7 linked regions of the Homo sapiens genome follow. The protein of the gene in region 3 interacts with the protein of the main gene of each other region in a biochemical or structural test. Each region holds a gene or a part of one and is shown on either strand. Other genes may lie near its edges. The genes, in order: PML, MAPK9, STAT3, FYN, RPS6KA1, GTF2I and RPRD1B.

The links.
Region 1: the proteins of STAT3 (region 3) and PML form a complex in vitro, tested with the Homo sapiens proteins (one study listed by BioGRID).
Region 2: of the proteins of STAT3 (region 3) and MAPK9, one has a biochemical effect on the other in vitro, tested with the Homo sapiens proteins (one study listed by IntAct).
Region 4: the proteins of STAT3 (region 3) and FYN form a complex in vitro, tested with the Homo sapiens proteins (one study listed by BioGRID).
Region 5: of the proteins of STAT3 (region 3) and RPS6KA1, one has a biochemical effect on the other in vitro, tested with the Homo sapiens proteins (one study listed by BioGRID).
Region 6: the proteins of STAT3 (region 3) and GTF2I form a complex in vitro, tested with the Homo sapiens proteins (one study listed by BioGRID).
Region 7: the proteins of STAT3 (region 3) and RPRD1B form a complex in vitro, tested with the Homo sapiens proteins (one study listed by BioGRID).

The regions. Positions count from the first base shown.
Region 1 is NC_000015.10:73,997,716-74,001,215, reverse strand, and holds part of PML (protein PML), read right to left. Parts: intron 3,213-3,500; coding exon 2,740-3,212; intron 1-2,739.
Region 2 is NC_000005.10:180,236,584-180,240,083, reverse strand, and holds part of MAPK9 (mitogen-activated protein kinase 9), read left to right. Parts: intron 1-96; coding exon 97-160; intron 161-1,680; coding exon 1,681-1,752; intron 1,753-3,500. UniProt on the Homo sapiens protein: Serine/threonine-protein kinase involved in various processes such as cell proliferation, differentiation, migration, transformation and programmed cell death.
Region 3 is NC_000017.11:42,378,443-42,381,942, reverse strand, and holds part of STAT3 (signal transducer and activator of transcription 3), read left to right. Parts: intron 1-3,500. UniProt on the Homo sapiens protein: Signal transducer and transcription activator that mediates cellular responses to interleukins, KITLG/SCF, LEP and other growth factors. Once activated, recruits coactivators, such as NCOA1 or MED1, to the promoter region of the target gene.
Region 4 is NC_000006.12:111,698,953-111,702,452, reverse strand, and holds part of FYN (tyrosine-protein kinase Fyn), read left to right. Parts: intron 1-2,184; coding exon 2,185-2,349; intron 2,350-2,782; coding exon of another isoform or gene 2,783-2,938; intron 2,939-3,500. UniProt on the Homo sapiens protein: Non-receptor tyrosine-protein kinase that plays a role in many biological processes including regulation of cell growth and survival, cell adhesion, integrin-mediated signaling, cytoskeletal remodeling, cell motility, immune response and axon guidance.
Region 5 is NC_000001.11:26,557,261-26,560,760, reverse strand, and holds part of RPS6KA1 (ribosomal protein S6 kinase alpha-1), read right to left. Parts: intron 1,955-3,500; coding exon 1,824-1,954; intron 36-1,823; coding exon 1-35. UniProt on the Homo sapiens protein: Serine/threonine-protein kinase that acts downstream of ERK (MAPK1/ERK2 and MAPK3/ERK1) signaling and mediates mitogenic and stress-induced activation of the transcription factors CREB1, ETV1/ER81 and NR4A1/NUR77, regulates translation through RPS6 and EIF4B phosphorylation, and mediates cellular proliferation, survival, and differentiation by modulating mTOR signaling and repressing pro-apoptotic function of BAD and DAPK1.
Region 6 is NC_000007.14:74,734,218-74,737,717, forward strand, and holds part of GTF2I (general transcription factor II-I), read left to right. Parts: intron 1-1,243; coding exon 1,244-1,315; intron 1,316-2,282; coding exon 2,283-2,466; intron 2,467-3,500. UniProt on the Homo sapiens protein: Interacts with the basal transcription machinery by coordinating the formation of a multiprotein complex at the C-FOS promoter, and linking specific signal responsive activator complexes.
Region 7 is NC_000020.11:38,043,746-38,047,245, forward strand, and holds part of RPRD1B (regulation of nuclear pre-mRNA domain-containing protein 1B), read left to right. Parts: intron 1-3,500. UniProt on the Homo sapiens protein: Interacts with phosphorylated C-terminal heptapeptide repeat domain (CTD) of the largest RNA polymerase II subunit POLR2A, and participates in dephosphorylation of the CTD by RPAP2. Transcriptional regulator which enhances expression of CCND1.

The sequences.
Region 1 (3,500 bases), on a different chromosome or scaffold from region 3:
AAAATCAGTAAGCAATCTAAGGAAAGACTAAAAGTACAGTACTTTGAAAAGACTGCTAAACCACAAATATACAACATCAGAAATAAAAAAAGGGGGTATAGTTACAGGCATATAGGAGATTTTTAAATAATGAAAGATAACTCAGGATGAACTGGAAAATCTTCCAAAAATCTGACACAAGAGCCAAAACAGATTAATGCCATGGCAAAAATGGGAAAAGTTCCCAAAAATCTACTATAAAAAAGGCACCAGTTCCAAGATGGTTTTTCAAAAAACTTTTATAAGCCTAAATTTCTTATATTCTTCAAATTGTTCTAGAGCAGAGAAATTATAATAGAATTTTAACATTCACTGAGTATTTAATATGTGCCAGGCACTACGCTAAACAATTTATATGTACAGTTGGCCCTCAGTATCTGCAGGTTACGCACCCGTGGATTCAACAAATCTTGGATCAAAAATATTCAGGCGAAAAAAAATCAATTAAAAAAGTACCACAATAAAAAAATATACAAATTCAAAAATATAGTAAAACAACTCTTTACATAGCATTTACATTGTATTAGGCATTATAAGTAATCTAGAGATGACTTAAAGTATACAGGAGGGGATGGGTACAGTGGCTCACACCTGTAATCCCAGCACTTTGAGAGGCCTAGGGAGGGTTGCTGCCTGAGCCCAAGAGTTCTCAAGACCAGTCTGGGCAATGTCGTGAAACCCTGTCTCTACAAAAAATTTAAAAATTAGCTGAGTGTGGTGGTGCACACCTGCAGTCCTGTATAATCTGGTGGCTGAGGTGGGAGGATTGTTTGAACCCAAGAGATTGAGGCTGCAGTGAGCCACGAGTGCAGCACTGCACTCCAGCCTGGGCGACAGAGCAAGACCCCGTCTCAAAAAATAAAAATAAAATAAAAAATAAAGTATACAGGAGGATGTGTAGAGGTTATATACAAATACTATGCCATTTTATATCAGAGACTTGAGCATCTATGAATTTGAAACAGACTCCCATGGATCCCGTGGGATGGCTGCATTATCACGTTCAAAACATGAAAGCTTACAAATTCATTAAGAAATTAGTATAAGGCTGGGCATGGTGGCTCATGCCTGTAATCCCAGAACTTTGGGAGGCCGAGGCAGGTGGATCACCTGAGGTCAGGAGACCAGCCTGACCATTATAGTGAAACCCTGTCTCTACTAAAAATGCCAAAAAATTAGCCAGGCATGATGATGTGCACCTGTAATCGCAGCTACTTGGGAGGCTGAGGCAGGAAAATGGCGTGAACCCGGGAGGTGGAGGTTGCAGTGAGCCGAGATCGCGCCACTGCACTCCAGCCTGGGTGACACAGCGAGACTCCATCTCAAAAAAAAAAAAAAAAAATTAAAAAAAATTTTTTAAATCCAAAAGATAGAACCAGAGATAAAGCCAATTTCTCCTAATTTATTGCAATTTCAATCAAAATCCAATAAATATGTAAGTTTTAAAACTGCATAAATTGTAAGAGCAAAAGAAATGCATACATTTTTTTCTTTCGAGGAATTTGTTCCTGAATTCTTTAATTAGTCCCTTAATTCCTCAACGGAAACAACAACAACAACAGGCAAAGGACCTAAACAGGCCACTCGCAAATGCAGAAACACAATGGCCAATAAACAAGTGGAAAGCCACTCAACCTTTACAATAAGCTAAGAAACGTGGTGATACCAGCTGTTGAGGAGTCGGAGGGGAAAGCTTATTCTGATAGTGTGGGAAGTTTATCCTAAAGCAGGAAACAAATCACAGTCAGTTTAGCAGATATGTAGTTCAGCAAATATGTGGTTTAGCCATATATAGTTCTGAGTTGTCAAAAACCAGCGAAAAATGCTTTCATTTTGCAAGTGGATCTCTAAGAACCAAGAAGCGCCTTCTATGAACAATCTATTGCTAATGGTGAAAAGTTCACATAGTTATGCTACCTTTTTGGCTAAAAGAGGGAAAATAGGACCTGATAAGATTGCTCCTACCTGCATATATATTCGTAAAGAAACTCTCAGAAGAAACATTCAAAACTAGTAACAATGGCTACCTGTGGATGGGAAGAGGGAGAAGTGGTGGGAATTAGGCAGTTGGGCATGGACAGAAGATTGCACTCTCTCTCTCCTCTTTACAAATTTTGTTCGTGAACTGTACGAATGTATTACCTATTAAAAAACTGAGTTAAAATCTGTTTAATAAAAATAATTACAACTGGATGTGATTTTTTTTCCCCATACAGACATTCTCAGATAGCGCTGCCTGGTGTTAATGGTTTCAACTTTTCAGACAGAAACTAACTACTTGTCTCTGATCCTAGAATCCAGCCTTACTGAGATTCCGTGTCAGTGCTCTCGGAAAATTCCACTAAATTCTAAAGGGCAGTTTGGTAACATGTATCAAATGTAGAATTCCCGTCCCCCTACACCCAGCAGTGGCACTTCTAAAAATTTATCCTAAAGAAGTTACTGGATAAAGATGCAAAGATGATTCTGCAGCATTATTTATTACAGGAGGAAACTGGAAACTTACTATCCACCTGCGTGGGGACTGGCAGCATAAATTGTGGTCATCAACACGGACACTGCATATCTGCAGACCACATTTAGAGTTGCAAGGCCCCAGAAGCTCCTTGTCCTCAGCTGTGTGACTCTTTGGATCTTTGCTCCTCTCGCCCTCTACCTGGTACTTGGATGCACCACCCCACCCTGTGCCGGCCTACTCACCTGGTCAGCGTAGGGGTGCGGTGGTTGGGGTTGGAGCAGAAGATGTTGTTGGTCTTGCGGGTGCCGTCCAGGAACTCACGCACCGACTGGTTGCGCAGCTCTGCTAGGGGCCGGGCCTCGTGCTTGAGGAACCACTGGTGTGCCTCGAAGCACTTGGCGCAGAGGAGCTGCTCGCACTCAAAGCACCAGAAGTCGGCCGACTCTTTGCAGCGGGTGCACACAGCCTGCGCATCCACAATCTGCCGGTACACCGACAGGCGCCGCTGCAGACTCTCGAAAAAGACGTTATCCAGGGCGGGTGTGTCTGCACCTAGGGGCCAGGGCGCCTGGCAGATGGGGCACTGCATGCCCGACGCCTCCAGGCATCCTGAGCACAGCGTGTGCAGACAAGGCAGCAGCTTCGGGCACTTGGCTTCCGCCTGGCATTGCTGGCAGCGCAGAAACTGGAACTCCTCCTCCGAAGCGGGGGCTCGCTGGGGGACCAGAGAGGCAGGTGAGGCCTGGAGAAGTCCCAAAAGCCCCCACCTACCGGCCAACCACCCTTACAGCTGGACCCTGGAGTAGGACCTCATATTCCATTCCAGCCAGTCATTGGATGATGCAAAACCCTGGCTTATCAGCACCCCAATACCCCCATTTATTCAGGCCCTCCAGCTCTCACTGCACCATTTATTGAGCATCTACTTCTCATCACCCACAGTAATAGGCTCTGAGATATAAGAGGTGTAGGATACATTCTGCCTTCAAGGAACTCAGTTTGG
Region 2 (3,500 bases), on a different chromosome or scaffold from region 3:
AATAGACTAGAAGTCTTCCAAGCAATTTTACCTTTTTTAGTGCCTCATTTTTTTTTGAGGCATTACTGTTGACTTTACATATGATTTAATTTTTAGCCACCACCTCAAATTTATGATGCCCAGTTGGAAGAAAGAGAACATGCAATTGAAGAATGGAAAGGTAAAGATGGAGCTTATTTTGATCCTTCCTTTTGACATTTCTTCCAATCCTGTAGAGCAGAGGCTTTTCATTTTGTGACATTTCCCTTCAGGAAGGGGCAAGAAACCCTGCGACCCACTTAGCCTCTTTCTCCCCAGTTTCCAGTAGAAAATGAACTTGAAGAGAACAGAGTTAGAGAGGAACATTTATGAATTTCTTATCATTTGCTTCAAGAGGGAAAAATAATATTTTTTTCATGGCTTTTCACATATTGATTTATAAACTGAGCTTAGTAATTGTATCATACTTATATTGATTGATATGTTTTTAAGCCATGTAGTTGTACATATGTTTTAAAATCTAGTTTGGGGGAAATTGCAGATTGAAAATATGCAAATAGGTATTATTACCACTATAAGATTAACCAAACAACCCACAACAAACTATACCTGTAATGAAGAGGTTGAACTAACAATTTTTCATTAAGAAGCAGGATCAGTAGTAACTGAGAACCACAGTCAGAGTCAGTCAACACTGATGAGGGTCATGCCCCAGGGCCATCCTGGGGTGTGGGAGTGCCGGTTACCTGTGTGTGCCCGTGCTCAGCAGTGCATGCACACAGCGTGCTCACTGGCCTCAGTCAATGCTCACTGGCCTCAGCGAATGCTTGCAACGTGCTAATGTTGGTTTATGAATACTGACATTTTAGGAATCCCTCATCACTTACTTCGTAGGTAATTAGTTTTTCTTACAGATGAAAGTTGAGGAAAACCGAAGTTGAAATTAAGAAAAGACTTAGGCCTGTGGATTCATTTCTGGCCAGTGTGGGGGGCTCCTAGCCCACATGTGGGTGCTGGTTACCTTTGGAGAACCCCAAGTAACCACATAGAGAAACATATTCAAATGGGTGTGAGAATATCCAATCCCCTACAGTGTTCTGTGGGAGCCACTCCACTTCATAAAGCCCCCTTATGGATCCAGAACCACCCTACATGTTTTGCTGCCTTACTAGTTGCATTGAAAAAGATGTAATGTAGTCCAGGCGCAGTGGCTCACACCTGTAATCCCAGGACTTTGGGAGGCCAAGTGGGGCAGATGGCTTGAGGCCAGGAATTCAAGACAAGCCTAGCCAACATAGCGAAACCCTGTCTCTACAAAAACTACAAAAGTTAGCCAGGCATGGTGGTGAACACCTGTAATCCCAGCAATTTGGATGGCTGAGGCATGAGAATCACTTGAATCCAGGAGGTGGAGGTTTCAGTGAGTCAAGACCATGCCACTGTACTCCAGCCTGGATGACAGCATGAGACTGTCTCAAAAAAAAAAAAAAAAAAAAGAAGAAGAAGAAAAGAAAAGATATAATGTATCAAAATATGAATATTTTGGTCCAGGTAGACTATATTACTGAATTGACTCTGTCTTACAATTAAAAATAACAAATCGCAATGCCTTTGTTCCAGTTGATTTGGAAGCAGAGTTTAGAGATACAGTGAAACTGTTTAGAAACTGATTAAGCATTTTAACTTGTATTTTTATTAAAGAGCTAATTTACAAAGAAGTCATGGATTGGGAAGAAAGAAGCAAGAATGGTGTTGTAAAAGATCAGCCTTCAGGTTAGTGATTGCTTTAATTGATTGTATGATATTTTTCTTTCCCTATTCAACTTTTTTTTTTTGAGACAGAGTTTCGTTCTGTCGCCCAGGCTGGAGAGCAGCGGCGCGATCTCTGCTCACTGCAACCTCCGCCTCCTGGGTTCAAGCAATTCTCCTGCCTCAGCCTCCCGAGTAGCTGGGACTACAGGCACGCGCCACCATGCCCTGCTAATTTTTGTATTTTTAGTAGAGACGGGGTTTCACCATATTGGCCAAGCTGGTCTCGATCTCCTGACCTTGTGATCTGCCCGCCTCAGCCTCCCAAAGTGGTGGGATTACAGGCACGCACCACCATGCCTGGCTAATTTTTGTATTTTTAGTAGAGACGGGGTTTCAGCATATTGGCCAAGCTGGTCTCGATCTCCTGACCTCGTGATCCACCCGCCTCAGCCTCCCAAAGTGGTGGGGTTACAGGCGTGAGCCACCGCACCTGGCGTCTTTCCCGATTCAACTTTTATAAATGGCAGCAACATGTGAAATGCCAGCCTGGCTAGCATCAGATTTAAAAACCGCTGTATGAATAGCCAGCCTTTTTGGCTTGTCATAGTGGTGGTGGTGGTGGATGACATTTTACTGATGTGCCAGGCACTGAACTTTGTTATAAGCATTTCTCTTTCATCTTTGCAATAACTGCTGTCACCTCCATTTACAGATGAAGAAATTGAATTTAAAGCCTTTTCAATGTTGATAACCCTTTGTACTGGTCCCACCCAAAATGCCAATCTAAGTAAAATGGAGTATGGTATTCTTTTTGAGAAAATTGTTGATATCATTTTCCCATTTTTCTGCTTGATCTACTGATCTTCATAGTGGTGGAAGCCTCTAATGACCAGGTAGTTGTATGATCATGAGACTCTGATATGAGTCGTGTTCACTTACGTCTGAAGGATTCTTCCTGTTTACTAAATGAAACGCTCACGTTATATCATTGTCTCTCTCCCACTCCCACTGGGAAGCATGCACACACATGTGTGCGGATGTGCAGAGAGCACAGCTTACTTTTTATTCTTGAATTTTATGTTCAACATGACGTATGTGTCAAGCATCTAGAGATTATATAACTTCAGCAAGAACTTAGGTGCTTGTTAACTGAGCACACACGTATGACTGCAGACGTCGATCTCAGAGAGTGCATGTTGTGTTTTTATTCAAACCAGACTAAAATATGGATAGTAGGAAGTAGGATAGTTTCATTTGCTTTAAAAGATTAAAATGTCAGTTTTCTGGAGTTATAAAACCATAAAATATACAAGGCCACTAATTTTTTTCCTTTTTCTGGTATATAGTCTTTATTTATTGCAAAAGATTTCTTTGAAAGTTGATGCTTTTTTTCCTGTAGATTTAGTGTTTATGTTATAAATTGTTACAATTCAAGTGTCTGGTGACACTGGAATCCTAGTCAGGCTTAAGCTTTTGTGATACTGCATTTTCAGATAAATATAGCTGTGTCCTTTTGATGTCTGCTTGAAAGCAGCAGGTATTTTTTAAGTAGCTAACATGATTATACATGGCCACATATATGTTTAGCTACTGAGAAAAAAAGAAGAATCTTGCAAGGAAAGACATAGGAATATGGGACTCTTGGCCCAAAGAAAGACTCAAGGAAAAGTTCAGAAAGTCCAGCTGACTGACTTCTTGTCTATACTCATAGTTAGGATTGGGAAACTGCAAAAGGACAGAGCCGAGAAATGGCCTGCAGTCTCGCTGCC
Region 3 (3,500 bases):
TTTAAATGTCATTAAAATAAGTTATTTTGTCCTTTTTAGAAAAGTAATAACATGCTATTATAAAAAAAAAGACTTGTAGGAATATAAAATGTGTGTTTTACATGTATCCTGTTAATTGACTTGCTTTTATTCAGATTTTTTGCAGCCCTTTCTGTTTACCAGGTTATCTTGGAGACATATTTATTCCAAATTCCTTTTTTTTTTTTTTTTTGAGATGGAGTCTCGCTCTGTCGCCCAGGCTGGAGTGCAGTGGCGCTATCTTGGCTCATTGCAAGCTCCGCCTCCCGGGTTCACGCCACTCTCCTGCCTCAGCCTCCCGAGTAGCTGGGACTACAGGCGCCCGCCACCACGCCCAGCTAATGTTTTTTTTTTTATATTTTTAGTAGCGACAGGGTTTCACCGTGTTAGCCAGGATGGTCTCAATCTCCTCACATTGTGATCCGCCTGCCTCGGCCTCCCAAAGTGCTGGGATTACAGGCGTGAGCCAGCACGCCTGGCCTTCCAAATTCCTTTTAACAGCCTAGCAAAAGAATAATAAGGAAGGTAAATCTGCCCCTACAAGAAAATAATGCTTCGACGATCCGGCTTTCCTTCCTGCTACCCCCAGCCATAAGAATAAATGACCTTGCTCATCACTGAAATTTTACCTGACCTTTGAATTTTTAACTGCGTCAGCCAAAGAACTTATATTTTGAGTATTCCTAAGGTGATTGCTATTGTAGTTTTGAAACACTTGGTTGGTATGTTTGAGGGTTTCATGGTCCAAAGTTACTATAGCAGTTAAAAGAGTGGACTATCAGGTCAGACCTATTGGGCTTTAATCCCAGTTCTGCCTTCTCTTAGACCTTGGGCCTGTTGTTTTCACTTCTCTGGTTTTCAGTTTCTCTGTCCACAATTGTGGAAACGAGGTCCACTTGTAGAGTAATTGAGAGGATGAAGCAAGATGATGCATATCAAGTACTTTGCATAGTGCCGGGCAGACAGGTAACATTCAAGTGCTAATAATTACTATTATTACTATTTATTTTTTGAGACAGGTTCTCACTCTGTCACCTAGGCTGGAGTGCAGCGGTGAGATCACAGCTCATGACAGCCTTGACCTCCTAGGCTCAAGTGATCCTCCTGCCTCAGCCTTCGGGGTAGCTGGGGCTACAGGTGTGTGCTACCACCCTCAGCTAATTTTCTAATTTTTTTGAGTCAGGATCTCGTCACGTTGCCTAGGCTGAATTACTCTTATTAAAAACTATAATATCAGGCCGAGTGCGGTGGCTCACGCCTGTAATCCCAGCACTTTGGGAGGCCAAGGCGGGTGGATCACCTGAGGTCAGGAGTTCAAGACCAGCCTGCCCAACAGAGTGAGACCCCCCCCGTCTCTACTAAAAATATAAAAATTAGCCAGTTGTGGTGGTGGGCACCTGTAATCCCAGCTACTCGGGAGGCTGAGGCAGGATAATCGCTTGAACCCGGGAGGCGGAGGTTGCGGTGAACCGAGATCGTGCCACTGCACTACAGCCTGGGTGACAGAGTGAGACTCTGTCTCAAAAAAACCGAAAAACAAAAAGCATAATTAGGGTGGTAACGCTTATACATAGGGGCAGGTGGAATAAAACATAATTAGGAGGTCGGGCATGGTGGCTCACGCCTGTAATTCCAGCACTTTGGGAGGCCGAGGCGGGTCAGGAGTTCAAGACCAGCCTGCCCAACATAGTGAGACCCCGTCTCTACTAAAAATATAAAATTTAGCCTGTTGTGGTGGCGGGTGCCTGTAGTCCCAGCTACCCGGGAGGCTGAGGCAGGAGAATTGCTTTTGAACCCAGGAGGTGGGGGTTGCAGTGAGCTGAGATCGCGCCGCTGCACTCCAGCCTGGGAGACAGAGCAAGACTCCGTCACAAAAACAAAAAACAAAAAACTGTCATATCAAAAACTAAACTAAAATGGTAATATCTGTTAGATATTACAAAGTCAGGCAAATTATGATTCATGGCAGCCACTAATGACCCAAAGGAGAGAAAGAATAATTAGCAGATTCTAACCTAATGGGAAAAAAACTAAATGAATAGGGATGGGGGACTTACATTCTGTTAGAGGAAATTGAGGCTGTCATATAAAAGGAATAGGTAAGGCAAACTGTAAATTCCTGTTTACACAAATGCCCTTCTGATAAATCTCTGCATTGCCCACAGTCCATGATTACCTCTCCCTTATTTTAAGTAATATTTAACACATTAAAAATGGATTACCACCCAAGGAATTGCTCCCGACCCAGAAAGTGCAGGTAGTGTTGAAGGTTTGAGGGGAAGAGGAATGATTAGAGTTGGTTGTGTCTCAGGAAGAAGCCAACAGGAGGAACCTTATTTTGAGTCAGGTAAAGAAGGTGGGAGTGAGGAGGCATCCCGGTGGCCAGGTATGAAGCTGGGAGCTGATTGCTGCACATTACTCAGCTGAATTAAATGTGCCCTCACATCTGTGTGTGTGCGTACATGCAAATGTACATGTGTATGAGTTAGTTGGAGGGGTAGACCTTTATTTTCCTGTCCTGTAACTTTCCTTTGCAAACTAATCTGTATTCAGAACAGTGTTGCAGTTAAGAACCACCCAGCTTGTCCATGAAACAGGTTCTCTCACCCCATCTCCCCAGTTTTAGAGAAGGCAGGAAAGAAAAGGCAGTGCTTTTCTTTTTTCCTGGCCGTATGCGGGGCAGGAAGAAGCCAGCAGAGCTTGAAAGAGAAAGTAAACCTTCTGGGAAATAAACGGCTTGGCTTCCCTATTGTGGAGGAGGAGTGCAAATTATTAGGGGGATGTTTGGGTAGTTTTTGTAGAAGCCATTTCTGAAAACTGATTTGGATTAGTGAAGGTAAGCCCAATTTAGGAAAACCCTGCCCAGTCTGGTGTCAGCCACCTGTTTCCCGCTTTGTTTGATTGATTTGATTAGTTTGTGGTATTCTGACCTCTCATTTTTATTACAAGAGTTGGAAGATTTGAGTCTGAACTTGAGCACCTGCTTCGGTGAAAGCTTCCTAAAATGCATGTTTTTTCACATTTTTTCTCATGTTCATTTTGTTTTGCTTTTTAGCAAACACTTTTTCTGACAGAATCTAAAAGCATTAGACTTTTCTTGTTTTCCCCTTCTCTCCCCACAATGTAATCTTGAAAACCCAAATGTTAGCTGTGTAAATTACCTCTCCCGTAAACCAAACAAAGTGCAATATTGCATTGAGTTAGCATTGAAATAGTCGGCCTTTGAATTTTTTTCTACTTGTGGTTTAGACATAATAAATATTTCATCTCAGACTGACTTTCTCGACAAATCAGTTTTGCATTTGGGCCTCTTTTCATCAGTATGTTTAGGGAAAGCACATTTATTGAAACATTAACCAAAATGAAACATAATTAGGAGGCCGGGAGCGATGGCTCACGCCTGTAATCCCAGCACTTTGGGAGACCAAGGCATGTGGATTGCTTGAGGTCAGGAGTTCAAGACCATCCTTGCCGACTTGGTG
Region 4 (3,500 bases), on a different chromosome or scaffold from region 3:
CATTCTCATGCAAGCCATTTATCATGTTCCCCACCAATACTGCTGTTTCCTAACTAGGCTTAGACTTACACAACCCACAGCTCTTAGATCTATTATGTCTATTGTGTTAAATTAAACTTTTATAATGTACATCAGTTTCTGTCCTAACACCCAGATATCACCATTATTTTGTTCTTTCTGAAAACATATAATTATTAGATATGCAGTTTATACATTTTATCAAAGACTGGTTTTATGTGCAATTGTTAAAATGATTGCTTTCTTTCCTAGATTAGCAAGTATTATATGCCACTATATAATACATGTTCACATGTGCCTATAGATATAGGTGCACATGTATAGACACATGTCTATATCCTATTAAGCCTAGAGATATTTTTTTGTGTGACCCATTTCTCCATTTTCTATTGTTCTCCAGGACAAAGGCAAGACTCAAAAATAGTATATGATTTACCTCTACTATTGCTCTGTGCACAATCATTGAAATATGTATGTATAATTTTTGGCATGAAAAAGCAATCTTTCGAAAATGACAATAAGAAATGTCTGTTGATCCCTTGCACTAATGAACAATAGAAAATATTAACAGCACTTGCAGTACTAGTTGATTATGGCATTGGCTAACTCGGTTTATGTGGATTCTAATGAAACATTTGGGAGAAATGGAACAAAATATCTCCCTGAGCTTAAGTGATATACTCAAAATGCCTGCATGTTGTAAGGATTTTTCAAATGCTGAAATATATTTCATTACAGCCAAACATCAGCAGGATCCCCAGGGTTTGGATCATTTGAAAATACTGTGTTCGAAAGGGCACCTTAATAACATTGTAAAGCTGGAAGGAAAGAGGGGATATGAACAATAGACACTTTTTTTAATCTCGGGGAAAAAAAATCCATCTCACGTTAGACTTGTTTTTATATTGGCTTTCCCTCTTCCCTCTTTCTCTCTCACACAATAAAATGCCTTTGAAATGCTGACACATAAATAATTTCCTACCTAAACATCTCAGAGCCTGATTCCATCAAAAAGAAAGGAGTAAAAAGCAAGTTACAGCCCAGCAGCACATCTGCTTTCCCTGGGTCCGGGGGCTGCCAGGAGGGAGCGGGAGGTCTGTCCACCTCACAAGGCAGGCTCTGTCAGCTTTTGTCACTCCCTGATTTCTTATTCTTTGTTACCTTTTTTCGCCTGACTGATTTTTACTTGGCATTTAAGTTCCCCTTAGCACTGCCAGATTCTAAAAGGTTATATTCTTTTTAAAAAAGAAGAGAAAGAAAGAAGGAAAGAAGACAAAGAAAGAATAAAAACCTCCGAGTGTTAACTACTTTTTCCTTTCTTCTTTTTTTTATAAAGAATACATTCTTTCACATCTTGAATTTCTGTGAATTTTAGTTTCCATTCTTTCTCCTTTCAAACCAGACACCTAAATTATACGTCGAAGACTGTTAAAAAGTTGTTTTTTTTTTTTTAATGGAAAATATCCAAGAAGCAGCCCAGGAGTATCTGACATGGTGGAATGGAATCAGTTAGAAAGCGAAGAAATCACTAAAAAAAGTTACTTCTTTTTTTCCCCACCAGTTATAATCTTCAACCTTACTAGTTTATAACAGTTTAATGTCCTATAGAAGGATCCTCCACTAAAGTTATAATTTTAAGTATAGTCATATAGAGAGATCCCTAATCCCCTGGGTAATCTAGATACTAAAGGTGGGGAAGAACAGTCATATTGACATTCTTTAATCCAAAACCACTGTTTGAAATTAGTAAGGATATTTTCAGCATTCCCAAAAACATGTTATTAGCACGTTGAGCTGAAAACGTTTTTCTTCCTCAGTGAGTACAGAAACCAAAGCAGTCTGCGTGTATGTCTATGTATAGACTGTATCGTACCTGGGCTCATGGAGTAGTCTAAATTTAAAACGTCCTCTCTTCTACCTCCAATGAAAATGTTTCCGTGTGTGGCGTCTGATCTTCCACCGTGTGTGTGGTCGTCTGCTGGTGTAGCGCTGTTTAAGGAGCGCTGTGTGCTGCTAGTGTTCCACGATGTGTGTGGTCGTCTGCTGGTGTAGTAGCACTGTTTGAGGAGCACTGTGCGCCGCTAGTGTGGGTTTACACTTATGAGTGTTGTCATTACATGTGTTCTGCTCTTCTCTCCCTCTCCTGCCCCTGCCCTGCTCCATCAGAGAGAGCTGCAGGTCTCTGCTGCCGCCTAGTAGTTCCCTGTCACAAAGGGATGCCAAGGCTTACCGATCTGTCTGTCAAAACCAAAGATGTCTGGGAAATCCCTCGAGAATCCCTGCAGTTGATCAAGAGACTGGGAAATGGGCAGTTTGGGGAAGTATGGATGGGTATGCTGAGACTCAATTACTCTCTTATTAGCTTCCCCGTTTGGAAGATCCCAAACACCAAAGATGGAAGGTGAAAATAAAGACTGCGTGACCGGGAAGAAAGTTTGAATTACTAATAGTGGGGAATAATAATTTCAGTTTTGGTTTTAACATTCTGGAATTCCTAAAAAAAAAAAAAAAAAAAAAAAAAGATAGTAAGTGGGCAAAATTGGCAAATGGCTCAAGTTGTACTATTACATGACTCTCAATTCATAAACCAGCAAATGGTCCAAGGAATGTTCCAGCTGCCATAAAATATCTTGCTCTTCATTTCCAAAAGCAAATATTTGTTGAGTGTCATCCTAACGGGCAAGTCACCTTCCATCTTTCCTAGTGCATGCATAATTATGGATTATAAGGACTGTGTTTTCTTTATTAATTCCCTTTCCTGTAGAGAAAGCTGATGGTTTGTGTTTTAACTTAACTGTGATTGCATCGAGTTGTACCCCACAAACTTCTGGATTGGCTAAAGATGCTTGGGAAGTTGCACGTCGTTCGTTGTGTCTGGAGAAGAAGCTGGGTCAGGGGTGTTTCGCTGAAGTGTGGCTTGGTAAGGCAGAGGGCACATTTTGTTTTGGCTGCATCTCAAAGCCGATTAAAAGGATGGTTTTGAACAAAAATGCACACACAGCCGTTGGGACAAAGACACTTAACCTGGATAACTAGACGGGCACAGGCCATCCAGATTTTCAGAATATGCTGATACCTTGCTGTGCTCATCTGTCCTACTTCATGTGGTTAATTAAGGCACCCGCAGAACAGGAAACCAGTACACTATGAATCTGGTGTTTCCTCTTCCTAAGAAATGGGAAGGTAAGATACTGTATATGGGCAGCCATAAGAAAGACCATGGACGTTTTGCTCAATGGGCCTGGGTTTGAATCCTTACTAGCTAATTAACCACGAACAAGGGGCATATTTAACTCCTTTAAGCCTCAGTTTTTTCATCTGTAAAATTGGAATGATACCTTTTTGTTGTTGTTGAGACGGAGTCTTGCTCTATCACTAGGCTGGAGTGCAATGGCGCGATATTGGCTCACTGCAACCTCCACCTCCCAGGTTCGAGTGATTCTCCTGCCTCAGCCTCCCGAGTAGCTGGGATTACAGGTGCC
Region 5 (3,500 bases), on a different chromosome or scaffold from region 3:
CCGTCACTAAAAACCAGGTTCTTCCCATGGAGTTGCTGTAGGAGACCAAAAATTGTGGCTGACCCCTGGCTCTAGAGTGCTAGGGGTCATCCCCCAGGACCTAAGGTCTTGGCTCAGTAGAGACAGCACCAGGGAAGGGCCAGGAGACTTGGGGTAGAGTGTTGGCCATGTGACCGCAGGTGACAGCCTGCCCCTCTCTGGGCCTCAGTTTTCTACTCTATATAATGGGCATACTCACTGGCTCCCAGCCTGCCTGGACTGCAGCCTGTGGTCAGAGGGCAGTGTAGGGAGTGGGAAACAGGGTCACAACACACATGGAGAGGACTTTAGTTCTGAAAAGTCTGGGCAGGCCTGGGAGGGACGCAGGAGCCCTGAGCTGAGTTCCAGCTGTGCCACTAAGTACGGCTTTGAGTGGCCTGCCTCCCTTTCTGGGGTGTCACAGCTCAACTCATGGGGTGTCTCAAGGTTCTGGGACATTAGCCGTAGCAATGCTGAATGGTGCTTAGTGTGTGCTGTGTGCCAGGCACTATTCTAAGCACTTTCATCAGGTGACTGCATGCCCCACGGCCAGCCCTGGCTTGCGCATGCGGTCCTTGCATCCAGTCTGATTTAATATTTGTCCTGGACTAAGATGTCCCAGTTTGGAAAATAAATTACATAGTCACCTTAACTTTATTTTTTATTTTATTTATTTATTTTTTGAGACAGAGTCTTACGCTGTTGCCCAGGCTGGAGTGCAGTGGTACGTTCTCAGCTCACTGCAACCTCTGCCTCCCAAGTAGCTGGGACTATAGGCACGCGCCAACACGCCCAGCTGATTTTTGTATTTTTAGAGACGGGGTTTCGCCATGTTGGCCAGATGGGTCTGTTTAAATTCCTGGCCTCAAGCAATCCACCCTTCTTGGCCTCCCAAAGTGCTGGGATTACAGGCATGAGCCACCGTGCCCAGCCCACATGAACTTTACATGTATTAACTCTAATAATCCTCATAACAGCTCTATGGAGGAAGCTTCTATCATTTCCCCCATTTACAGATGAGGAAACTGAGGCACGAGGAAGGGAGTATCTCATCCAAAGTCCATTATCTGGTCAGGTGCTCATGTCTGTAATCTCAGCACCTTGGGAGGCTGAGGTGGGCGGATCACTTGAGGTCAGGAGTTTGACACCAGCCTAGCCAACATGGTAAAACCCCGTCTCTACTAAAAATACAAAAAAAAAAAAAAAAAATTAGCTGGGTGTGGTGGTGTATATCTGTAGTCCCAGCTATTCGGGAGACTGAGGCAGGAGAATTTTTTGAACCTGGGAGGTGGAGGCTGTAGTGAGCTGAGATTGTGCCACTGCACTCCAGCCTGGGCAACAGAGCAAGACTACGTCTCAAAAACAAACAAACAAAAAACCCCAAAGTCCATTATCTTGTGAATCTGGAACCCATGCAATGAGCTCCACAGTCTACATTCTTGCCTCTCAACCTGAAACTTTCATTAGCAGTAGAAGTGTACAAATGGGGAACAAGTGTGATGAGATCCAAGTCCTTCGCTACACTTATGCCGGAGACACGACAGTCACTCGGCACCACCACCCTGGGCACCTCCTGACATGTACCCAGACCCTGGCTCTGTGCTGGGAAATGTACACCCATATCATCATCCAATTATCAGGGCCACTGTGTGAGGTGGGCCTTACTGTCCCTGTTTTATGTTGGAGGCCCTACTGGTCCCACAGTGGCATGAGGGTATGAACCTGGTTCTGTCCAACTCAGAGCCTGTGTACTCAGCCATTCTTTAGAAAAGGATAATGGAGCAGCAGCCCCCTGCCCCCCTCACCTGTACCACCGAGTGCAGGGGTGCCTGCGGGGCACGAGGCTTGCCGTCGTCTTCCATCAGGCCGGTGGCCACGAAGCTGAAGCCCCGGAACAGCTGATGGGCCCCAGCGCTGGGGGGGATGCCTGGGGAATCTGTACGGATGGAAGGAGAATGTGAGGGTACCTGAGGAGGTCCCCTCGACCCTGAGGCAGCCCAGCAAAGGGGGAGCACAGGGCCTCCAGACCTGCCTCAGGGGCTGGCCGTGGCGGGAGCCTGCAGAGGGCCTGTCCATCACAGGCCTTGGCCCAACTGCTCATATGTGTTTATTAGACCAGCCCAGTCCTGTCGCATGAGGAACAAAAAAGACTCTCACATCCACCTCCATCCCAGGCCAAGACAGTTCATCCCTTCCTGGATGCTTCCTCCCCAGCTTCCCCATCTTACGTCAGCCCCTTCAGGTCCATCTCTGCACAGCAGCCAGAGGGAAGGTTCCAACCACAAATCTGCCACCCTGCCCACACCTTTCAAAGGTTCCCGTCTGCCTTCAGGAGTAAGTCCAGCTCCTGAGTCTGGCAATTGAGGGCCCTGTGATCCTCACCTCCTCTCTCTCCATACCACAGCTGAGCCATGTTGGACTTCTCAGATCCTTAGAGGGGTCTCTGAGCCCTTGCACACACTGTTCCCTTTAACTAGATAATCCACTCCTTGCCTATCCTTCAAGACTCAACTCGCACGCTCCCTCCTCTGAGAAGCCTTGCCTGATGCTGCTCCTCCGGCCCCTGACTCCTACGAAGCTGCACTTGTCACGTTGCCCAGCGGACTGCTTGGAGAAGTGCTGTCTCTGTCATCAGAGGCGTGCAAGTGCAGTGAGAAAAGCACCCCCTTGTGGATCACCTGAGGTCAGGAGTTCGAGACCAGCCTGGCCAACATGGTGAAACCCCGTCTCTACTAAAAATACAAAAATTAGCCAGGCGTGCTGACACATGCCTGTAATCCCAGCTACTCGGGAGGCTGAGGCAGGAGAATCTCTTGAACCCAGGAGGTGGAGGTTGCAGTAAGCTGAGATCACGCCATTGCATTCCAGCCTGGGCAACAGAGCGAGACTCCATCTTGAAAAGAGGAGAGGAGAGGGAAGGGAAGGAGAGGGAAGGGGAGGGGAGGGGAGGGGAGGGGAGGGGAGGAGAGGGGAGGGGAGGAGAGGAGAGAAGAAAAGCACACCCTCTCCTAAAACATGCCCTTATAGGAGGTTTCCCAGAACATTCCACCCCACACCCACTGTCAATATCTGGCCAAAAAGTTAGGATTCACCAGGTTCCTTCCCAGAAGCTCCCTCACTGGCTTCTTGTAGCAACCCCAGGGAATGAGTGGGTTTGTGGCTGTGCCCTTGTTCCAGATAAGTACACGGAGGCCGGGCAGTCAGGGCAGCCAAAGCTGATTCCCATGCCTGTCCCTGACCTATGGGCACTGTCACCTCTGCTCAGCCACCACACAGTGTGGCTGGGTCAGATTCTTTCTCCCTGACGTGATGGTAAGCCTGATGTGTTTGGTCTTCCCAGTGGGCTGGAAGGTGCCCCGGGCAGGGGTCCTGGCTTTTCTACTGTGGCCTTCACCACCCACACATCCCCACTCCCACTCTCTCACCAGACACAAAGAGACCCACAGAGCCCCATAGTGAGAGAGTCGGGCGGAGTGAGACAG
Region 6 (3,500 bases), on a different chromosome or scaffold from region 3:
ACAGAAGTAAAAGAACAATATTTGTTCTACTTTTGATGCAAGATTTATCTGGCATAATGCATTGAACAGTTTATTATTGAAGTCTACACGAGTCAATGGAACAAGCATTCATTGAATGTCCATGATATGCAGGACATAAGAAGGTTTCCTTTTAGAGCATGGAGCCATTTATATCATCTCTTAATTGTTAGATGTATTTTGTTTTGTTTTGTTTTGTTTTTTGAGAGGGAATCTTGCTCTGTTGCCCAGGCTGGAGTGCAGTGGTGCGATCTCCGCTCACTGCAACCTCCCGCCTCCTGGGTTCAAGCAGTTCTCCTGCCTCAGCCTCCCTGTAGCTGGGATTACAGGTGCCTGCCACCATGCCCAGCTAATTTTTGTATTTTTCGTAGAGACAGGGTTTCACTATGTTGGCCAGGCTGATCTCAAACTGCTGACCTCAGGTGATCTGCCCACCTCGGCCTCCCAGAGTGCTAGGATTACAGGCATGAGCCACCGCGCCCAGCCTGTTAGATGTGTTTTAAAATAAATAGAAATATAATTGATTTTCTTGCTTGCTTTTGCTCTGGAGTGGAGTGGAGTGAGGATAAAACAGAATGGAATCACCCTGTTGATATTTACTAAGATAGAAGGACTGCAGCAAGATCATAGCCCTAATCTTCCTGTAGCAAGTGTTACCTGCTAGCTGTTCCTGAATACACTGAGTTTTGCTTTTTCCTAGCTCTAATGAATGTTTCGTTCTTCCTCTTTTTGTACAGTGTCAGCATTGTTTTAGAAATAAATACATTCTAGAATCTTAGGAATAATTTTATTATTGTCTTTTTTTTTTTTTGAGACGGAATCTCATTCTGTTGCCCAGGCTGGAGTGCAATGGCGCAATCTCAGCTCACTGCAACCGCTGCCTCCTGGGTTCAAGCGATTCTCCTGCCTCAGCCTCATGAGTAGCTGGGACTACAGGCGTGCGCCATCACGCCTGGCTAATTTTTGTATTTTTAGTAGAGATGGGGTTTCACCATGTTGGCCAGGCTGGTCTCAAACTCCTGACCTCAAGTGACCCGCCTGCCTCGGCTTCCCAAAGTGTTGGGATTACAGGTGTGAGCCATTGCACCTGGCCACGAATCTTAGAAATAATTTTGGCCATAGGAAAAGGAAAAGTTATACCTCTTATTTTATAGTAATAATGTTTAATAATCAAGTTATTAAACCCATTAAATTGAGAACACTTGTATTACTGTTATTTTGACAGTAAAGGAAGAATGGTATGCCAGAATCACTAAATTAAGAAAGATGGTGGATCAGCTTTTCTGCAAAAAATTTGGTAAGTCTGTTTTTTTTAATTACCCCTTCAACTAAAATGTATTACTGAGTAACATTTTTTTAAATGTTGTTTTATTTTAGGAAAGTAAATACAGTGAATAGGACTCAGCTTTAGTTTTCCCTGTTTTTTTTTTTTGGGTTTTTTTTTTTTTCTTGAGAAGGAGTCTTGCTCTGTTGCCCAGGCTGGAGTGCAGTGGTACGATCTCAGCTCACTGCAACCTCCTCCTCCCGGGTTCAAGCAATTCTCCTGCCTCAGCGTCCCAAGTAGCTGGGATTACAGGTGCCCGCCACCACGCCTGGCTAACTTTTGTATTTTTAGTAGAGATGGGGTTTCGCCATGTTGGCCAGGCTGGTCTCAAACTCCTGAATTCAGGTGATCCACCCGCCTCAGCCTCCTAAAGTGCTGGGATTATAGGCGTGAGCCACCGCGCCCGGCCCCCATTCTATGAATTATCTGTGGAAAGTTATTTCCTTTAAAATGGCATGCTCGTGAGGTTGAAGGGGTAAAGAACATTGATCTGGTTGCCACGCAGATGAAAGTGTAGTCGGAAATGTGTTACCAGTTTGCCATAGCCGATGGAGGAGGGTAATTACGGTCCTGAACAGTTAGTAGCAAAAGGCTGCTTCCAGATAGTATTTAGGTTGTGTCCTCTATTGTCCATGATGATTTTCTTTCTCTCTTTTCTTCCTAAGGATATTGAAAAACAAACTTTAATCTTTTAAAGATCTCAGAGCTATTAAGATTGTCTTAGGACCAGGACACTTAAATCTGCCCAAATCTGGCTGTTGATGATCGGTCATCTCTACTTGTCTTTGCTGTATTAAGTCTATTCAATAGTTAATAAATATGTTTCTAGAAAGAGTTTTTTTCAAGTAAAACAAAATTGACCTGTGCCTTTCTTTGGATTGTACTAAAATCTGATTTCAATACAAATGTAGTCTCCCGAATTGCTTTGATTTTTGTCCAGCGGAAGCCTTGGGGAGCACTGAAGCCAAGGCTGTACCGTACCAAAAATTTGAGGCACACCCGAATGATCTGTACGTGGAAGGACTGCCAGAAAACATTCCTTTCCGAAGTCCCTCATGGTATGGAATCCCAAGGCTGGAAAAAATCATTCAAGTGGGCAATCGAATTAAATTTGTTATTAAAAGGTAAGATGATAATCTGTAGAAATAGTTTCAGTGTCTTCCCTGAGAAGAGGTTAATTTGATGAAGAAGGGCCTTTTGTTTACCTTATGACTTATTTCTATTGACAATGAAGGCATTAATATTTAGATTCACTTAGTGAACAAATATTAGTATAAGCATCAGATGTGCAAAATTGGGTCTAACAAGAACACTGTCCTTGGGGCCTTCATACAAAGAAAAATGCACTGAAGGCCGGGCGCGGCAGCTCACGCCTGTAATCGCAGCACTTTGGGAGGCCAAGGCAGGTGGATCACTTGAGGTCAGGAGTTCAAGACTAGCCTGGCCAACATGATGAAGCCCCATCTCTAGTAAAAATACAAAAATTAGCTGGAAGCGGTGGTGCAAGCCTGTAGTCCCAGCTACTCGGGAGGCTGAGGTTGGAGAATCACTTGAACCCTAGAGGCGGAGGTTGCAGTGAGCCGAGATCGTGCCACTGCACTCCAGCCTGGGCAACAGAGCGAGACTCCATCTCAAAATAATTAAAAAAAAAAAATAGAAAAATGCAATGAAGTGTTATTGAGCGTTTTTAAGGGAGAAGGCAAGGATGGCACACCCAGCTCGGTCACTTGTGCATCCAGAAGAGATGGAAGGTGTTTCAAGTGAAGGAAATCATATGAGTAGGGGGAGGAGGTGGCAAATATGCCTGCGTATCCACAGAACTCACCCACCGTGTGTGGAGTGAGGACTGCCACGTGGGCGTGGTGGGGTTGCATGGATCGACTTGGGTGGGCAAGTGGAGGAAGGCCTGAGATCCTACGAACACAGAGGCAGTCACGAAGTGGTCTCGAGGCAGATGCCTCTGAAAATAATGTGGATCCGCCCTTTAGAAAGGTAATTCTGGCTTGATTTTGAAGGATAACACAATGGTTAGTTTGGGTGCGGGGTTAGGAACAGAAGGCCTCTCTCCACTCATTGACGGGATGTGGAAGGGTAAACCTTCCTTACTGATTGGGGTCATGCCTCTGTGTGTTTGTTGGGACTGAGTTATAAGGGATAG
Region 7 (3,500 bases), on a different chromosome or scaffold from region 3:
AAAGAGAAATCAAAGACGATTTCTAGGTTTTTGATGTAAGGAATGACTGATGGTGCCCTTTACTGAAGTGAAGATTGGGGAAAAGATTTGGTGGAGGAAATCACGAGTTTTGTTTTGGCCAGGCCGAGTGTGAGGTGGCTAGTGAATATTCCAAGGAGTGATGCCAAATAGGCAGGTGGATAAAATAGTCTGAAGCTCAGTAGAGACTTGATTTCTGGAGACATAAATTTGAGAGTTACCCACATGATATTTACTTATTGTTGTGGGCCCCAAGACCACTCCCAGGTTTGGTGATTCCCTAGAATGACTCACAGGGCTCATCATGTAGTCATAGTCATGGCAGTGATTCATTACAGCTAAAGGATCCAAAGCAGCAGCAGCAGCAGAGGGTGATGTGCATGCAGTACCCGCAGCAGACTGGAGCGCTCTGGGTATAAGCTTCCGAGTCCTCTCTCAGTGTTATTCCACAAACACGCTTAATTCCTCTAGCACTGAGTTGTGATGTGTATGATGTGTAACCTACCAGGAAAGCTCATTAAAGACTCTGTGCCCAGAGTTTTTATTGGATTGGTCATGTAGACACCCTCTGCCAAAATTCTAAGCTCCCAGAAATAAATCAGGTGTTCATTTTTTTTTTTTTTTTTTTGAGACGGAGTCTCACTCTGTCGCCCAGGCTGGAGTGCAGTGGCTTGGTCTTGGCTCACTGCAAGCTCCGCCTCTCGGGTTCATGCCATTCTCCTGCCTCAGCCTCCCAAGTAGCTGGGACTACAGGCGCCCGCCATGATGCCCGGCTAATTTTTTGTATTTTTTAGTAGAGACGGAGTTTCACCATGTTAGCCAGGATGGTCTTGATCTCCTGACCTTGTGATCTGCCCGCCTTGGCCTCTCAAAGTGCTGGGATTACAGGCGTCAGCCACCGCGCCAGGCTCAGGTGTTCATTAAGAACCGTATTGCTTGCACAAACAATTTAGGCCCAGTAAACCACCCTTACCAGTTAGGAAATGGTAGGGACACTCGGAAATCCCAAGTTCCCAGACCACTTCCCTAAGGGTAGCAGTCTGGCCTTCTGTGTTAACTCCTTTCTGAACCAGCTTTACATGAGGTACTGTTGGAAGTGTAGGGAATACTTAGAATTCCTGCCCTTAGTAGGCCTACCATAGGCCTGCTGTGCATGAGATAAGACAGAGTTGTACAAATTACTGTGGTTGTACTGAAAAAGTGCCATAGAACTGTAGAGGAAGAAAAGGCCCCCAAGGCTGGCTTTGCAGGGACTCAGGTGTCCAGCTGACACGTCAAGCAGCCAATTCTGTTTGTGTGTATCATATACATTTTTCACTCTTAAAGGTCAGTTTTGCTATCTGTATTGAAAAATAAAGTGATTGAATTTGTTATTAATCAGAATTAAAATATGAAGTGTTCAACGTAATATTAAGTTGTGTATGTAATTATTTGCCATCTTCCACTTTATTCATAGATTGTTGGCAAAGATTGTTCAGTCTTTTTTTCCACTTAAAGATTTCTCAGTTTAGATTGGAGTTAGTACAACCTGAAAATATTTCTCTTTCTGTTATAAAACGGCTTTATTACTTTGGTTGTATCTAATTCCAGATGCCAAAGTGACTTCCATTTCGCTGGAGCTACTTCCTTCAAAACCTAATCAGTAGAAAGATTTCTTGAATATTTTATGTATAACTTTGAAACTTATCTAGCAAAACTTTGATTTACCACAATGTTCAAGGAAATATCTGTCCTGGTTAGTTATATTCACTAATTAAACTAGAACCCCCCTTTTGGCCTTTAGTAGTAAAAGCCTTTTGAAAATGTTTTGTGGTTATAACAGGTTTGAGCATCATTTTCCACTGTGCCTGAAACTGTACACAAAACCAGTCTTAGCCTGAATGGAGTCCCAAGTATCTCCAGGAATGGTGGGTGGTGGGTGTGTGTTGTGATACCCACCTACTTTTAAACTAAGTCCTTGATAAGAATTTATTCTCGAGACTGGTTTCTCTTTCTTTTAAGCGAACAGAGAATCTGCAGCAAACAGATTTTATGCTAAAAGTACCAGCTAGTTCATTAACTAAGTTCTGATTAGTTGCAATTTGGTTTTACTAATTATAATGACTTTATTTTTCTAAGCTATACATTTGCTCACATTAGGGACCTCCCATTGCCTGCAGGCCACGTGCTTTAATATGGCATTCAGGGCTCGCTGTAATTGAATTCCACCCTCCTTCCAGATTCTTCTGCAGTTTCCGCACATTCCCCCATATACTTCAGCTACTTGAATTACTCCTTTCCCTTTGCCTTGTTCAATTTTGGCTATTCCATTTGAAGGAGAAGAGATAGCATGAACAAAGGCACATGCACATGAGAGAACAAATTCTGAGTAGCAAATACATACGGGTGGGTGTTGCTGGAATGCAAAGTTCCAGGTAGGGTAGGGAAAGGAGACTAAAAACAGGTCTGAGGGATTGCTGAGTCGAGCCCTAGAGGTCAGGACCCAGGCCTTCTTATTCTTTGTAAACCTTCATTGGTCGAGCTGAGGAGTGCTTAGTTGATTTCTGCCATGACCTTGATACAGTAAGATGATTGTTGAAAGTTAAGTAACTGTATTACTTACCGAAACCCATATACATTTTTCTGGAAAAGATTACAATTTGACAGATATTCATTGTGCTTGTTCAAGGGCATATAGCAATGGGAGAAAATGACAAATCTGCACCCCTGTGGAAATTACATTCAAATGGAAAGCGTGTAAACAAAAAGTAAACTATTGAATATACAGCATACCAGAAAAGTTGTATGGAGAAAAATTGAGTAGGGGCAGGGAGTGTTATTTTCAACGTGGAGATTAGGGAATGACACACTGAAGGTGGTGTAACTAAACATACCCCTGAAGGAGGAGAGGAATTGAGCTGTGTGGCCACATGGGGAATGTGGTTCCAGGCAAAGCAAACTTTTGAAGTGCTAAGGCTCTGAGGCAGTGCTAGGGTAGCTGTTGTTGAGGCAGGAGGTTGGAGGACGGGGGTGGGGAAGAGTGGGTAGGAGATGAGGCCAGGGAAATAACAGCTGGGTTGGGAAAGGCCTTGGAGTCTTTATAAGGACTTTTATTCTGAGGGATACTGGGAAGAAATGTTGGCAATTTTGAACAAAGGAGTGACGTGGTCTGCCTTAGTACAGCAGCTAAAATTGTATTTTGAAAACTCGAGAACAGGTTGTAGGAGGACAAGGGTGGAAGCGAGGAGACCAGTAATGAGGCTACTGTAGTAATGCAGGCGAGAGATGATAGTGCCTTGGGCCAGATTGATAGCAGAGGAAAAGATGAGAAATAACTCATTTCCGGATATATTTTGAAGGTGGAGTAAAAGTGTTTTATCACAAATACCAAGTAATTGGGTCATATTTTTAAGCTTTATAAAATTAGCAGTAGAAATGTTTTTCCTTTTTTTTCCCGAACCCTCACTTCTGACTTTAAAAAGTTTAACAAAAAAAGAATTAAT